Linked DNA regions of Homo sapiens: region 1 is linked to region 2. A link means that fine-mapping ties the variant in region 2 to the expression of a gene that starts in the linked region. Tissue or cell type: whole blood. Region 2 holds a variant in brackets; the other region holds the start of a gene. All regions are shown on one strand. Distances are from middle to middle.

Region 1 (8,107 bases), 210 kb after region 2:
AAGCTCCAGTCTAGGAAATAGATGAACGGCTTTGGGCTAAAACTGACCAAATGATTATTTGATCTCTAGTAAATGCTTCCTTTCCATCATCTGACTCTATGTAGATCTCATCCTTCTGGTTATCTGAAGCCTTCCATTGCACTAACCCACCTAAAACATTCCATAAATAAAACTCCATTTCTCTCAAAGTGACAGATCTGATGGGGTGTTTGCAAAAAGTTTACCTATACTTTTTTTAAAAAGTCTTTTCTTTTGAAATGCTCTCAAATACAATATATATGCAGAAAAGTGCACAAATCCTAAATGTATATCTTAATGAATTATAGAAAGCTATCTAAATGAACTAATTCATGCTAGGGTACAGATACACTTCATTCATTTTAAAAGATGAGCTTCTTATCAAAAAGGAATTTCTAATTAGTGGCATTACAACTTTGAAGCCAACATGGTATGTATATTCAACCAATGTAATAAAACACTCCAGTTCTGATATGAGACAAATGTTTCTAATCATTTTCGGGCTGAAATTCTACCCTAGAGAAGCTTGCTTTATGAAACAATCAGGAATGAGATTTCAGGAAATTATGAGAACTTGACATGATCCTTTGAATTGATCTTCGAATGAGTTGTCTTTCATTTATTTTCTATGGGGAATTTTAGGATAATGAAGGAGCAAATATTTCTCCTTTTGAAATGTATGTTTTTGTTCATTACTGTTCTTGGGAGGGGTGAAGAATAAGGTGGTTCGTGTCTAGGAGTCTGCAAGTACATAAGCCTACTACATACAGTGCTTTGGGTAAAAACTGACATCAAATTTGCTTTGGCATACACCTGTATTGTCCTCAACAACTGCCTTAAAATTTGGCTTTCCCAGTCATTACCCTCACTCAGCATCTCCTTGATCTCTCCTCTCCATATTCAAACACATTTTGAAGGCTTCCTGTCTTCTCTCTCTCTCTCTCTCTCTCTCTCTGTATACACACCCCATTCTCAGGGAAGAAAACTATCTTGTTAACCTGACAACCTTACCTAAACTTATTGGAGAGAGCAGAATTCAAACCCTATGGCAATCTTTTGGCAATGTCCTGGAGGATTTGTGTCCCCAAGACAGGGATTTCAGAAAGGGGAATATACAAATCTAGCAGTAAGATACTTTTTCTCAGCAGGAGTTTCTAGTCTCTTTCAAATACCTTGCAATAGAGGATGGCTTGCTCCAATACACACCCGCGGTTCTATGAGTCTGTACTGAAGTCGGATATCCATAATATTTTCCCCAACATCCTATCATTTTTCTCCCTTGACAACCATGTTTTGAGAACTTGAAGCAACAGATATGAAGAGTCTTAAGGGATTGCATCAATGTACGCTAAGATTAGTCTCTACCACATAGTCCAATGACACGGTTTTAGGTTCAGAAGGGATGCTCTACACCCACAGAATCCCACCGAGTTCAGGTGCCAGCTCAGAGAACTCATCACCTTCCTGTTTCCCTTCAAGAGTTAACTGATGGGATAGTATGCAAAGCACATGCGTTCTTGCTGCCAAAATAGCAGCCAAAACTGCCTGCCTAGATGTGTAAGATCCCATGAAATGTCTTGGCAAAAGCTAGTTTAGGAGTGTTGGCCAAGGTGCTGAAGCGAAGCAAGGGGAGTCAGGACCACCTTTGCCACTGAATCTCCCCTCCCCCACCTCTTTTTAAAGACAGCGAGCTTATTCATTTTGACAAGATACCCTAGGATTTCAAATCTGACATAATTTTGGAGAAAGCAGTGCGTGTGTGTGTGTGTGTGTGTGTGTGTGTGTGTGGTGTAGAAGGGTATCTGGGATACATAATCTTTATAGAAATTCTAGTGCCACAAAAATTCTAGGAGGATCTACATTTAAAAAAACACACAACAGTTTAAGCTGTTTATTCCAATTGAACGCTGTGTGTTTCCATCAGATCCTCAGTGAGATTCAGTCCAATGAGTCAATTGCAAAATAAAGTTTTTGTCAAGGGAATGGCAGAAAATGACAAAACCACAATTCTGAATGATCATTCAAAAGTAAAAAGTACTTTCTACTACTGTGTGGAGATTTTCTTATCTCTACTTTTACTCGAATTGAATCTTTTCTTCTAATGTTCTTTTGAACAGTTTGTCTTTGGTGTCCTGAAAATGTGCACGCTGATAGCAGTACCACATGCTGTCCCTGGCACAGAGTGAGCTAACAGTTGAACCACCTCTGGGTAACTGCGGACTGCAGCTAGTGTAAGTGCAAGAGAAGGCACCCTGGCCACCAATTCGTTTCACACTCCAATCACCCCCGCCCGCTCTACACCCCCTGGGCACCCGATGCCTCTTCCCTCTGCCAGGCAATTTGCTTCCGTTCTGTTCAACTTTCCGACCTCTGGCTTTAGAGAATAGTCCTGGCTGTGGGAACTGGCTCTGGGAAGCTTTTGGCGCCCTCCTCATTGGTGACTGGCAAGAGTAACACTTTCACACTCTTAAAAAGAGCCGTTTAGTTCCTAATGATATTTTCTGGCAAAAAAGAAAATGAAACACACAACCCGGATTCCGGTCCACCAAACGCAGGCCAAGAGCGCGGCTGCTGAGCCCCGGTCTTGCTGTGAGGCTGTTGTTCCCACTCGCTTCCCGTTTCCACTAGAGTTGATTTGTCTCTTGCCACCTCTCCCCGGCAGTGTGGACCTACTGCAACGCAGGAACATCTGGGTTGGTATGGATAGGATCCTAGCATCAGATGCTGGCTGCTGCCCCAGGGACTTCCCGCGGAAATCACCCAGCACTTAGAAGCCGTTTCAATAAGGAAGTAACCAGTAAAGCATTGCTGGTGGGAGAACCCCGCGAAACATCTTAGAAAAATATCAGAAACCGCTGGAGACCTAATGACCCACGTCTCCTCCAGCCTGTGTTCCTCAGCCCTTTCTGGAGGAGTATTAAGTGGTTTGTGGGTTTTTACCCTGCGGTGGGAGGGCTGTTCCAAGTACATCTATTTCTGCGATAGTTAACGTCGGGGGGCCCCAGCTCTAACCAGGGCGAGGACCACGGACTGCATCCCTCTCTCTCAGCGCACTGGTCTGTTTACTGGAGGGTGAGAGGGACGCGCAGACCTCCGGACTCAGGGGTTCTGTTCTGTAGATCCCCCCACCCCACCCGGGGTCTCTGGCACTCGTATCACTTAGCACCAGTGTGACTGGCGGTGCATTCCGGCCCCCTCGCGCCCCATTAAAGCCCCTGCACATCCTCTCCCACGCTGCGCTTCTGCTACCCACGCAGCTGCTCCTCTGAGCGTCCCGCGTGCACAAACGCGCCCCCGGTCCTTACGCGTCGGTGGCGCTGCCTCGCTGAGGTGGCGCCGGGGGAGCCCGCAGAGGCGGCGGGGGAGGGAGTGCGGAGGAGAGGACCCGTGAGCTGCGGGGACCTGGGCCCGCCGAGCTTTTGGGGAAGCTGGGCTCCGTTCCCCCCGGGCGCCTGGGGCGCGCGGGAAGGCGCGGAGGACGCGCCGCACTCACCCGCTGCTGCTGCCGGCTGCTGACTGCCACCGCGGCGGCGGACGCGGCGCTGTGCCGGAGCTCGGCCGCCTGCCCAGGTCTCAACAGGCTCCGGGTGAACCTGCGGGTCCGCTCACCGGCCATCGCCGGTCACGCCAATCGCGCCGCGGGCCCGGGGCGCGCCTCCCGCCGGTCTTCCCCGCGCCAACCTTCTCTATCCACCCGCCGTTCAGGAAGCGGAACTCGGAGCCTTCCCCCCCCTCTTCCTCGCTCAACTCGCAAGAGGCGGGTTTTTCTCTCTTGCACCCCCACTCTTCCCACCCCCTTCCCTCCTCTGAAGCTTCTCGAAGACTTTCCAAACTCTGCGCTCCCCCGGGCGCGCGCGGCCAACTCGGCTGGCGGCCGGGCCCTGCAGCGGCGCATCTGGAGCGGGCGTCGCGGGACGCGTGTGGGGCGGCTCCTGCCCGCGCCGCCCACACGGGCTCAGCTGGCCGGCCGGGGCTGTCCACGCCGCCCGGGGGAACTGCAGGCTGCGGGGGAGGGCGGGGGGCGGCCGCCGAGGGGCTCCGGGCGGGGCCTGTCCAAGGCCGTCGCCTGTCCAAGGCCGTCAGCCTCATTTGGAGGTTGCTGGGAGAGTTGGAGCCCTGGATGCATTTGCCGTTTAGACTTCTATTTTCTGGGTCCGGCTAGTGGGTGGGGGCCAAGCTCGGTTCGCCCTTCCACCCTCGGGAAGGGGTCAGAGGCTTATTAAAGATCTGGTGGCTGGGATCCCAGCAGCATCGCCCAAGCCAGCGTTTGGAAGGCTCCCTTGCCAGAAGTCCATGTTCAGGGCCTTGGAATAAGCTTCCCCATTCATTCACTCCTTCAATGAGTATTTATTAAGCGCCTACTATATGCCAGCTCACACTGTTCTGGAAACTGAGGATACGGAGAGGAACTTAGCAACTACACTTTAAGGCTGTGTAGAGCTGATAGGTTTTTTCGGGGTAGGGGTGGGAGACAGCAAGTAACCAAGCGAACAAATAAACAAATACAGAGAAATCAAGGAGACAGTTTAAGCTACTAACACGAACTCAAAACCAATAAATCAGCGTTCTGGGGGTAAGAGACTTTGGGTGGCATTAGGATGAGTAGGCAAGAACCAACTGGCAGGGTTACTATGTAGGGTGGTCAGGTCGGGGGTGGATTTCACAGTTATGCTGTCTCTGCTCTTCTCTTGCCCATACCCATCTAGCCTGCACTTTGCCTCTAGATAGGTATCTGATGAAAGCCTTCTAAGAAGTCTCTTCCTGGGTCATACCCAGGGTGGTTCTGCAATTCAGTGTTGGACTGGATGGGGGGCAGAGAAGTTCTGGCCCCTGGATACTGGTCTGGAGAGATCTGGGACAGCCTTTCCAAGTGGTCTGGTTTTTTCTTAACAGCTTTTTATGGATCCATGACCCTGCCACTTTCTAAAGCCAATGATAGATAGTTATAACACAAGGTCACATTTGGGTATAAAGAATTCTTAAGCAATTGATAAATGCACTTTAGTCAGCTCTTTGTTAGCCAGGATTCAATTAGCCAGAGATGCTGTTTGGGGATCATTTCAGCACATTCTAGAAATCATAACAGGCGTAAGAGGGTAAGAGGCTCTGGCAGATTTGGGAAGTGCCATTTGAAACATCATCTAGTTCCAAGACAGCCTGCATAACAAATAACTGTACCTGTATTGTATGCTTTCATATTGGTACTCAGTGTGGGAGCAACACCACCTTTCAGGGTAAGCAAAGTAGGTGGTTGCCTCTGTGTTGGTACATGAAGATCTCTGTAGGAACAGCTCCCTCCAACCGTACCCTTTCCCAGGTGTACCCAGACTTGATGTCTCTGAATGCATATTCCCCTGAGAGAACCGATTAAGCACATTTGAATTAACTTGAGCTTCCCAAGAAGAGGTACCTAATCTTTGTCTCTGGTTTCAAAACACTGCCTGGCACACGTAGGCACTCAATAAATATCAGCTTATGGATGACTTTACAAAGGGCTCAGATGGGCTAGTGCAGTCAGAGAGCTGGGTGTGCCTGACACAGAGAAAGTCAGAGAGGAGAAGAGAAAGGTGTGCTGAAAGGGAAGGCTATAGTAATCGATAATACATCAGAATGTGCCCTGCACAAGGCAACTCGCTGATCCAAAACACTGAGTAGCACACACAACCCAATCTCCAACAATATCGAGTAACAGAAAGTCACTTACAATTTGTTAATCGTACAATTAATACACCTAATTGTACTTTTTCCAGCTTCAGGAGGTCACCCAGAGCACTGGTGTGAGAGGGTTTAACGAACAAATGCCTGTTTGCCCAATCCATACCCTGTATGATGTTAATTCCGTGGGTCACACCGAGTAGGAAGGCAGGTTTAAGTGTTGATAGCATACCTCTCACACCCAGGGCATGTCAATAATGATACTTCAGAGACTCTCCTCCGCCCTTATGATCATGTAGGTTTTAGTTAAGCTTCCTTCGGGCACCAAGGAGAGAGAGCTGAGTGTCGACCCTTGCCCCTGCCCTTGTAGCATAAATACACTTATTTTTTGCTACAGAAATGTAACTTCAGGTCTGCTGATTTGGGACCTTGACTCTGCTGGCCACCCATCTCTCAGATCCCTGGAGAAACTCGGCTCAGATGCTTGGTAAACGCAAATCTGTGCACATATCATGAAGTATGTTAAGTTTCTTGGAACAGCTAGTTAATAAGAGAATCTTCAAGGGCTTGTAATATTGTAGAATAGTGGTTAAAATACATGCTCTGAAGTCCAATTACCTTTGTTCAAATCCCAACTCCGTAAGCCTCAGTTTCTTACCTACGCAATCAAGATAGTAGTTGTGTGGCTGGGCTGCTGAGAGAGTTACTTAAATTAGTGTAAATTTCTTCAAAAGTGACTAGCACATGGACTTCAATAACTGTTATTATCCCTACACTTGCAGATAACTCAGGAATTAAACAAGCTTCCATGTCTTTTCATATATTTGATTCTCATATGAACCCTGTTATTATTCCTACACTTGCAGATAACTCAGGAATTAAACAAACTTCCATGTCTTTTCATATATTTGATTCTCATATGAACCTTTGCGAGAAGAAGGATGGATGGGTATTATCTTGGAGCCAAGGCTGGGGATTTAATGAGCATTCTGGAGACAATGTCTTAACCCAAATCAATGACTATGGAATTTCATGAACAAGAATAACAATAACAATGTAATCCTTATAGTATTAACCCACTATTGTGTAACAATATGTAACTATAACATAATGTGCTACAGTTTGGATAATAGTTTCACATATATTATTTCACTTGAATTTTAATATATTATAAAATGGGGTTGTTCAGCCCATCTATCCCATGTCTCGCTGTCTAAAATTGTAGATGGATCATTAAAAGAGCTCCCCAAATGCATGGAACAGACATTTTAGAAACCAGTGGTTGCAAATTTTGCTAAATGTTCTCAAATCAAGATTGTACTAATACATAGAATGCAGAGGCTGCAATCAAGTTTTATCAGTGTTTGAATTTGCCAATTCATTTGAGTTGTCACGAGACAAGCCATTCACTGAGGAAGAAATAACCCCACTCAACAGACACTTATGGAATATCAACTATGGACAGGATCTCACACTATGCTAGGAGGGCACAGAGCTGAGCAAAATGTTTCTGTCTCCAAAAAGCTCAATTTCATACAGAGGAACTGACTTAAAAAACATTACTGGTGCTCATGGGTGAGTGGGTAGGGGGTGAGAGTAAGATTTTGGAGATGGAGCGTCTATGGACCCATGTTAACATTTTATACTTCATATTTTTATGACTTTTTAAATAAGATTGAAAAAATTGGTCTCAATAACATGGAATTTTCTAGCCTTCTCTTTCTCTTCCCCTCTTTACTTACCTCCTTTTCTCTCTTCTTCTTTCTTCCTTTCTCTCTTTGTCCTTTTCTTTCCTTCCCTCACTGCTTCCTCCCTTCCTTCCCTTCTTCCTTCTTTAAAATTTGATACTCTTCTTATTCATACTAAAGCATCACTTACTTTCATAAGATGTAGTAAGCACTGATTACTTGACCTGGTACAATTCAAAGCTTTATAGAATTAAGAAACCACAACTGTCAATAGCCCTCTCCTGTCATCCTTCTACATGACTGTGTCCATGTCTTATCAGCAAGGAAAGACTTCAGAAATTTTTTCATAGCAGTAATAAGTATAAATGTGAAAACTGTACTATATTTTCCAAAATACCTACAGACATAAGAGTGTGTAAATTTAGTTATTAGTCTAGGAGTGTGACTCTTGGACGAATAACTAAATTTGCACACTAAATGACTAAATTAGATCTTGATACCCAGAGATTGTAGGAGGTGGGGCAAATACTCCTTGCATCCATTCCATGGCATTGAGCCACCCTTCCTAAGTGATACCAAGCCCAGTGTACCCTGGGTGTCAGCCTGGGCATCACCATGTCCCAGTGCTTAACTATATCAAGTTTGTCTAGTGTTGCACCATTTACAAAGCACACTCATTATTTCATTTGATTCTCAATCATTCATTCTAAAATGCACATGGGACATGTGATATTGCCCCCACCGTA
Region 2 (8,000 bases):
ATATATATAATTATCTATCTATCTATCTATCTATCTATCTATCTATCTATCTATCTATCTATCATCTATCAATCATCTATATGAAATTAGCTGGGCTTGGTGGCCATGCCTGTAGTCCCAGCTACTAGGGATGCTGAGGTGAGAGAATCACCTAAGTTGGGGAAGTTGAGGCTGCAGTGAGCTATGATTGTGCCACTGCACTCCAGCCTGGGCAACAGGAGTGAGACCGTGTATCAAGGGGAAAAAAAAATGGGCCATGCGTGGTGGCTCATGCCTGTAATTCCAGCACTTTGGGAGGCTGAGGTGGGTGGATCACCTAAGGTCAGGAGTTGGAGACCAGTCTGGCCAACATGGTGAAACCCCGTCTCTACTAAAAATGCAAAAATTAGCTGGGTGTGGTGGCATGCACCTGTAATCCAAGCTGCTTGGGAGGCTGAGGCAGGAGAACCACTTCAACCCAGGAGGTGGAGCTTGCAGTGAGCCGAGATCGTGCCACTGCACTCCAGTGTGGGCGACAGAGCGAAACTCCGTCTCAAAAAAAAAAAAAAAAAGTAAAGAAAAAAGATGATATCAGGTCTTTTCCCACTGTGATGATTAGAGATGGTTAGAGTGGAAGGTGCAGGGCTCCTGAAAGAAAACTAGGGTGTGAGGGTTACCACTGAAAGGGGTCACGGAAAGCAAACCTCAATCGGGGAAGATAAACTGCTGGACACAATCATGCTGGCTATTATCAGTTCATTTATTCTTAGGCTGCTCACAGGTGTGTTTTGTGACCTGTCTATACAAGCAGATGCATACTGGTAGGAACTAGAAGAGAATTTTAGTCCAATCCACTCTTCTTACAGATGAGAAAACAGGCACTGAGATGTTAAGCGTCGTTTTCGTCAGCTAACAAGTTAGTGACAGAGCAGGAATTGCAACAGTGAGGTTTCCTGACCCCAGTAGAGCTTAACAACAGAGAGATACGAACCATTTTTACCTTTGTGTTAGATTTTCTCTCCCTCCCAGGTAGGAGGCTCTCATCTCCAGAAGTGGAGAGCAGAAATAGCAGAAAAGCAAAAATAGGATTTGCGAGTTAAGAGTTATGGAACTCCACAGATGATTAAAGGTCCAGCAAGCCATTTCTGTCATACTAAGATCAAGGCCATGGTTACATAGACCTGGGGCCTAGAAGCATGGATGAGGACCTCTGGATGGATGACTCTGAGGAAGTGGCTCTGCACACTTCCCTGAAGCCTTAGTGCTAGCAGAAGTTTAATTCCTCCCTATTAAGTGTCAGCACTCCTCCCATGCAAGATGATATTGCAAAGGCCTCTCCCTGCTAGAAATCAGGCAAACCCTTGAGGAGTTGTCCCGCCTCTCCTTCTGGTGATCAGGGCAATACCTGGAGGTTAAATCCTAGCTTAACCCAGCTGGGGGCTTGCTGGGCCTAATAAAGCAGGAAAGAGAATATACCCAAAGAGGCTATAAAAATTAGCTATCATGTACCACCAGGAGGTAGGGCAGAACCTCTGCAATTGTACATTGAGGATGTGGGCCAGAAAGTAAGGGCAGGTAACTTAGAATGCATTGACATGGGTGTGCTTTTTCAGAACATGGGATTAAATAAGGACTCACGGGATGAGCAACTCACTGCTAGGGTTGCTCTGAGAATCTAGAGATGGCCTACTTTAAGCAAAGTCGAAATGTCTGGTTGTCCTGGCAGAGGATAGAGGAAAAAATAAAGAGGTGGAGGGAGGTGGATATACAGGAATGGACATTAATTGAGACTGGAAGATCCACCAGTGTATCAAGTTCCCCAGGCAGGCCCAGAAGACAGCATGCACCATGGCCACTAAGAAGGTGCTGGGGACCAATATCATTAAGAAGGTCAGGGGTGTTTCCCATCTGTTGGCAGGAGGAGCAGTCACAGTCTTGGCTCATGAGCAGCCATGGGGATCAGGGATCACCAAAACAACAGAGGCCATGTGCTGTGCTTAATCTCCAGGAGCCAGGGGGCTGTGAGTATCATGACAAATGACAAGACTGGTGGGGAAGCCAAGAGGGACCGACTCTCAGGGAGTTGTAGAGCTGGTTAATGATGACTGGAACTCCTAGGGACAAAACAGAGAGCAACCAACAATGGTGGTACATCATATTAACAAAGAAGGCAAGAATGGGCAACTGGAAGATGGGGATGTTCATTCCAATGAATAGTCATGGTTCCTTTGTCTGTTCCTGGACCTGAGTCACAATTCAGATCTGGTACACATTGACTGAAGAGGTGATGGGGTCCCTAAAGGAAAGCCCCCACTGCAACAATGCAGTAGATACATACTGTAATGAGTCTATCAATTCTTCTCCAAAGGGCCCTATAGCCATTTACTCAGGCTACTGTACACTGAGAAGAAGGGCATATAGTTCAAGGACTGTTGCACACAGAATCTGAGTTGACATTGATATCCAGAAATGAAAAGCATCACCATGTCTGCCCTGATAGAGTGGGGACTTACAGGGATTAAAGGTGGAGTCCTGACTAAAGTTCTGTTAACAGTAGATCCACTGGGTTCAAAGATCCCCCCAATAGTCATGTAACTGGTCCCAAATGTATAATTTGTATTAATAAAACTGGCATTTGGAGTAAGCTTGCACGGGTGCTTGGTCTGTGGAGGTATCCTAGTGGGGGAGGCCAGGTGGGAGCTTCTGACACTGCTTCTTCCCCACCAAAAGAGTAAATCAAAATAATATAACTGTACACCACCAACCCCACCTCATGCAGCATTGTTATGATTTACCCTCCACGTGGGGCAGGGGCAATGCCAGAGGTCTTCCCTTGGCCTTACCCACAATGGGGGCTCAGAGAAATGTGTGTGGAACTCAGGTGATCTACCTGGCTGCTTCTTGGTCTTCCTCACTCCATTGTAACTGTGAATGGCCATAGGTACCAACTCTGGTGTGAGTAGAGTATGATGACCAGAGGCTGAGACCACTCTAGAATGAGGGTTTGGGTCATATCACCAGGTGAGTCACCAAGACCTTCGGAGCTGCTAGTTAGAGTGAGAGGGATCTAGAATGGAGAGTTGGGATGGGAGATGATGAGTAATACATAGGCTCCTGAAAAGCCATGGAAGGGGCTGTAATTAATTCCATCAGGGTCCCTCTTCTAAGCTTCCTTTCAGGAGGGGAGGCCCATGGGAACTGCAGGGAAGCAGATTCATGAACTTGTACAATATGTCATGCAAACTTGGACTGTGGCAGCCAGGAATGCACATCGCTCAAATGTTCCTTCAAGACAGAATCTAGTGGGAAGAATATAAAGAGTTGCTGTATCTTGCAATATGCTCCAGCATTCATGCCAAGGCTACCCTCCCCCCAGGCTGCTCCCAGTCAACGACTTAGCTTGCAAAGGTCCTGGAGGCCGATGGCCTTCCCAGTGCAGGGTTCCTCTAATGACAACTCTTTGCTCTCAGACTTCCCATCAGCCCAGCTAAAACCTTGTCACTGTGAGACTCTTCCTAGCCAATCCTCCTTCCTTCCCCCTTTTCATTTACAGGTATCAGACTTTCCCATTTCTTTTTCCTGTTCCTTTTATCCTTTATAGTTATTTCCCTCCAATACATCTTTTGCACTTCCAATATTGTCTTGGCATCTGCTTCTGAAGGGCCTGTGCCGGTTGGTGTACACAATCATTTCTTCTACTTATAAAGTAATTATTGTAAACTGCTAAGGTTTATAAAGCAAATAAAAATGGAACTCATGACAGCATAATCATTAGTGTAATTGTTGGATAATATTGTAAAAATATTATAATATTATATTACTTATGTTCTTACCTGGATTTTATTTGTGTCAATCAAGTGCTGTGCCATCGATTTTAGGATAATTGCAAAGAAGAACCAGGAATGCTGTTGGGAAAAAAAAGGCAACGAGACATTTATTATCCTATGGCAAAATAATGATAATTTTTTCTTTGCAATATGTAATACTATAACATTGTTATGTTAAAATGTATTCTTTGAAACTAAATGAATTAGAGCAGTAAAATATTCTCTATTATAGTGGGATGATTTTTATCTCAATCCTCTCAAAAAATGTTTAAACTAAAACAAGTTACAAGTTTATTTGGCATGACTGACTAAGCAGTTGTTTTACAAAATATTTATTCAAGGGATGTTCTAGTTGTTTCACCTAGTTAAACAAAACTAAACAAACTTTTATTTATTTATTTATTTATTTATTTATTTTTTGAGACAGTCTCACTCTGTTGCCAGGCTGGAGTGCAGTGGTGCAATCACAGCTCACTGCAGTCTTGAACTCTCCGGCTCAGGTGATTCTCCCACCTCAGTCTCCCGGACAGCTGCGACTACAGATGTGGTCACCATGCCCAGCTAACTTTTTGTGTTTTTTCGTAGAGACAGGGTTTTACCATGGTGCCCAGGCTGGTCTTGAACTCCTGGGCTTAGGTGATCCTCCCGCCTCAGCCTCCCAAAGTCCTGGGATTACAGTTGAGAGCCACCAAGCCTGACCTAAACAAACTTTTTATTGTACCAAGCTCACCCCTCAAATTTCAAAGGTTAGAGGTAAGGGTGAAAATGGAAGGTCATATGTCTAGATATCTAGAAGTTGGAAGTCAAGCTGAAAATGTGTTAAATAAAATATGTTTGATCCTCCTACCTCGAGAAACAAAACTTCATAACACCTTGGAATGCTGCCCCAGGGTGTGAGGTCCTGGGGGGCACAGGGCCTGGCCTGCCCCTTTTCTTCTCGCCCAAGGCTCCGTCCTGCCCCTTGAGGGGCCTGGTGCGCATGTGTTAAATACTTTAAAAAACAAAGCTTCAAAACTTATGTCACCTAAATAACTCAATCTCAAAATTATCTGCTCATGCCAGATTTTGTCATGAAATAAATGCAGGCCCAATGATAAGAGCAGTACACACCTGTTCCTACTTAGGGCTTTGCAGAGGTAGGGCCTTGTA[C/T]GCCTGAGCTCTTTTGGAAACTGTCCAGCCTGCACATCTGAGTGCTGTCCACAACCTGGCCCTCCTCCCTGCCGCAAATAGCTCCTTAATGGGGTCTAGGGTTGCACTCAGGCATCAAGACCTGTCCTCTGGAGGTCCTGGAGGGCTTGGGACAGAGATTGAAGCAGGCCTGGAAATCCACCTATAGGACCTTGAGCAAGAGGGTCTTGGGGTTCCTTACAGGTCTAGAAGGGGAGGTAGGGGCTCCTGGTGGGCTTGTTCTCTTAGCTCCTCTTAAACCTTGGCCTGTGAGGACAGGTGCAGTATGAGAAGAACAAAGCTCATCCCAGGATGGGCACCCTTCTTTCTTGGGCCTAAGGGTGACACTTATCTCAGCTACAAAAAGTCATATTGTATATGTATAGTTTCAAGAACGCACCCCTTGCATCCTCTCTGCTTCCTACTCCTTCCACCACAGATAACAGTTTTAAATTTTGTGCTAATCATTCCTTTGCTTTACTTCACAATTTTGCTACGAATACTTATACAATGAAGGGATATTTAGTTCATCTGGCCACTGAACTTCATAAGAATGGAACTATCCTCTATGTATTCTTCTGAGATTGCCTTTTTCATTCAACAAATTCTGTTCTGTGGTTCGTTTATGTTGAAGCACGTAGCTGGGGGGATCACATATGGTCACCACATGACATATATAATCACCATGTACTTATCTGCTCTACTGTCAATGGGCATTTGGATTATATCCTGTTTTAAGTCATACAAACAATGCTGCGATAAACTTTTGACAAGACAGTCCTAATTCCAGAAGACTGACTCAGATAAAAAAGAGAAGGGATTGATATTCTACAAAGGCAGCTATGGCTTAATGAAGTGGTCACTTCTTAGTAAGAAGAAATGGAAATGGCTACCAATACTATTCTAGCACTCCAATAGCATTCTAATGGCTATTAGAAGTGAAACATGTTGTTAGGAATATGAATGAATCCCAGGCACACTGCTGCAATCCTCTTTCCCTAATCTTGTCCAAAATATTTTGAGCCATCGTGTCAAGTGTTCCAACATTTGTCTCTTAATTCAACAGACTCCTACCCCTCTCCATCCCTTAGCACTCTGGCCTGCCTCCACTATTTTCCTTGAAACCACCAGCACTAATGAAATTGAGCTTTTGCCTGTTCACGTCTGATGACAGATGAAGCCTCAACTCCTCTACTGCCCTCTCCACATATTCCCTTATATATCTGCACATTCCACTGCTTCCAATCTCCTGAAACCCACCCACCCCACCTTCCAGAGCACATGGTCCATCGTTAGCACAATCTCTTGAAGATGCAATTCTTCTCCGAGCATTCCCTTCACTCCATATTTTAACTGAGCAGTGACTCTCCCCAGAGGATCCTGCTTCTCTGATAGCCCCTCAAGTGGTTGTGGTCTCCATTTTTATCCCACTGTAGTCGATTCTCAACACAGCAATCAGAGGGATCCTTTTAAACCAAGGTCAGCTTGGTTTAAAACATTACTCCTCTGTGCAAAACCCTCCAACGACACAACTCCCAGTTCTGCTCTGAGTGGGAACGCCTGGCCTATGCTAACTCCCAAGCCTCCAGTGGCTTCCATGACTTCATCGTCCATCTTTTTTTTTTCTTTCTGCTCACTTGGCTCCAGCCACAGTGTCCTCCCTGTCTCCTGCCACAGTGTCCTCCCTGTCTCCTGCAGACACACCAGCCATGCTGCTGCCTGATGACTTCACACAGGTCTTTCCCTCTGAGCATCCCCATGGCCAGCACCCTCTTCGCCTTCAAATTTTTTTTTTTTTTGCTCAAGAATTACCTCCTCCATCAGATATCCTGACCATTCTATTTAAAACTTCAAATCTCCCCTGCACCTTCAGCACTCACAATGCCCAATTCTTACCTGTTCTACAATTTTTCTAATGCATCTTCTTTTCTAACATACAATATCTATCTATGTATCTCTCTCTCTCTCTCTCTCTGGTCTTGTTGCCCAGGCTGGAGTGCAATGGCATGATCTCGGCTCACTGCAACCTCTGCCTCCCGGGTTCAAGCGATTCCCCTGCCTCTGCCTCCTGAGTAGCTGGGATTACAGGCATCTGTCACCACTCCTGGCTAATTTTGTTTTTGTATTTTTAGTAGAGATGGGGTTTCACCATGTTGGCCAGGCTGGTCTTGAACTCCTGACTTCAGGTGATCTGCCCATCTCAGCCTCCTAAAATGCTGGGATTACAGAGGTGAGCCACTGCACCTGGCCCACTCTACTTTTTTCTATGTTGTCTCGATATAGATCTCTTTTGCTTAGTATCTTTATATGCTAAGTTTCAATATGAACCTTATGCTGGAAACTGCAAGAGAAAAAGTCTATGAAAATCCATGACTCCTATCATTTTCCAGGAGTAAGCGTGACCCATGCCTAGTACTCACAGTTAAAGGACCATCTTTAAATTCTTACCTTTAGGACATGCTTTACTGTTGTTGAGTCATTTGATTTCAAAAGACCAGTCACATTTTTAGCCAGTTCCTCATGTACAGTCCTCTCCTTGCATGCCCTGGTCTTGAACACGAACTGAAGAAAATCCAAAAAGTGAATAAAGTTAAATACTTTGAAAAATGAAGCTTCAAAAACTATGTCATGTGAATAACTTATGTCTCTAAATTATCTGCTCATGCCAGATTTTGCCATGAGATAAATGCAGGCCCAATGATAAGAGCAGTACACACCTGTTCCTATTTAGGGCTTTGCAGAAGTAGGGCCTTGCTCACCTAAGCTCTCCTTGAAACTCTTTGTAGAAATCAAGAGAAAGAGCCAGAGAGCCATTTAGCACGTTCAAGGAAACATGGAGGGCTTTGACCCACCTACTTAGGACACATTCCCCTTCTCCTTCCTCCACTGGTAACAGGTGGCATGGTAGCAATTCTTCATCCTGAAAGGGTAGAGCACCCACTCAAATAGCCAAGTGGGGAAGCCAGTGCCTTCCAGATGCCAGTACGTGAGCTCCCCACAAGCCCAGGGTCTATGATCCCATGCTTA

What was found. PIP is the estimated chance that this variant, and not a neighbour inherited with it, causes the effect.
Region 1: DOCK10 starts here. The variant in region 2 is fine-mapped to the expression of DOCK10 in whole blood (TOPMed, PIP 0.94).

The regions. Positions count from the first base shown.
Region 1 is chr2:225,038,741-225,046,847 of GRCh38, forward strand. It overlaps DOCK10 (dedicator of cytokinesis 10), which reads right to left and starts at 3,728. Exons shown (of 56, transcript NM_014689.3): 1 at 3,512-3,728. The coding sequence starts at 3,634. RefSeq lists an enhancer at 2,435-2,774 and silencers at 3,325-3,564, 3,755-4,124.
Region 2 is chr2:224,826,729-224,834,728 of GRCh38, forward strand. It overlaps DOCK10 (dedicator of cytokinesis 10), which reads right to left. Exons shown (of 56, transcript NM_014689.3): 26 at 7,422-7,535; 27 at 3,813-3,884. Among named protein-coding and RNA genes, the nearest start is that of CCDC195, 110 kb to the left of the region's middle. The variant C/T (reference allele first, on the strand shown) is at 4,956.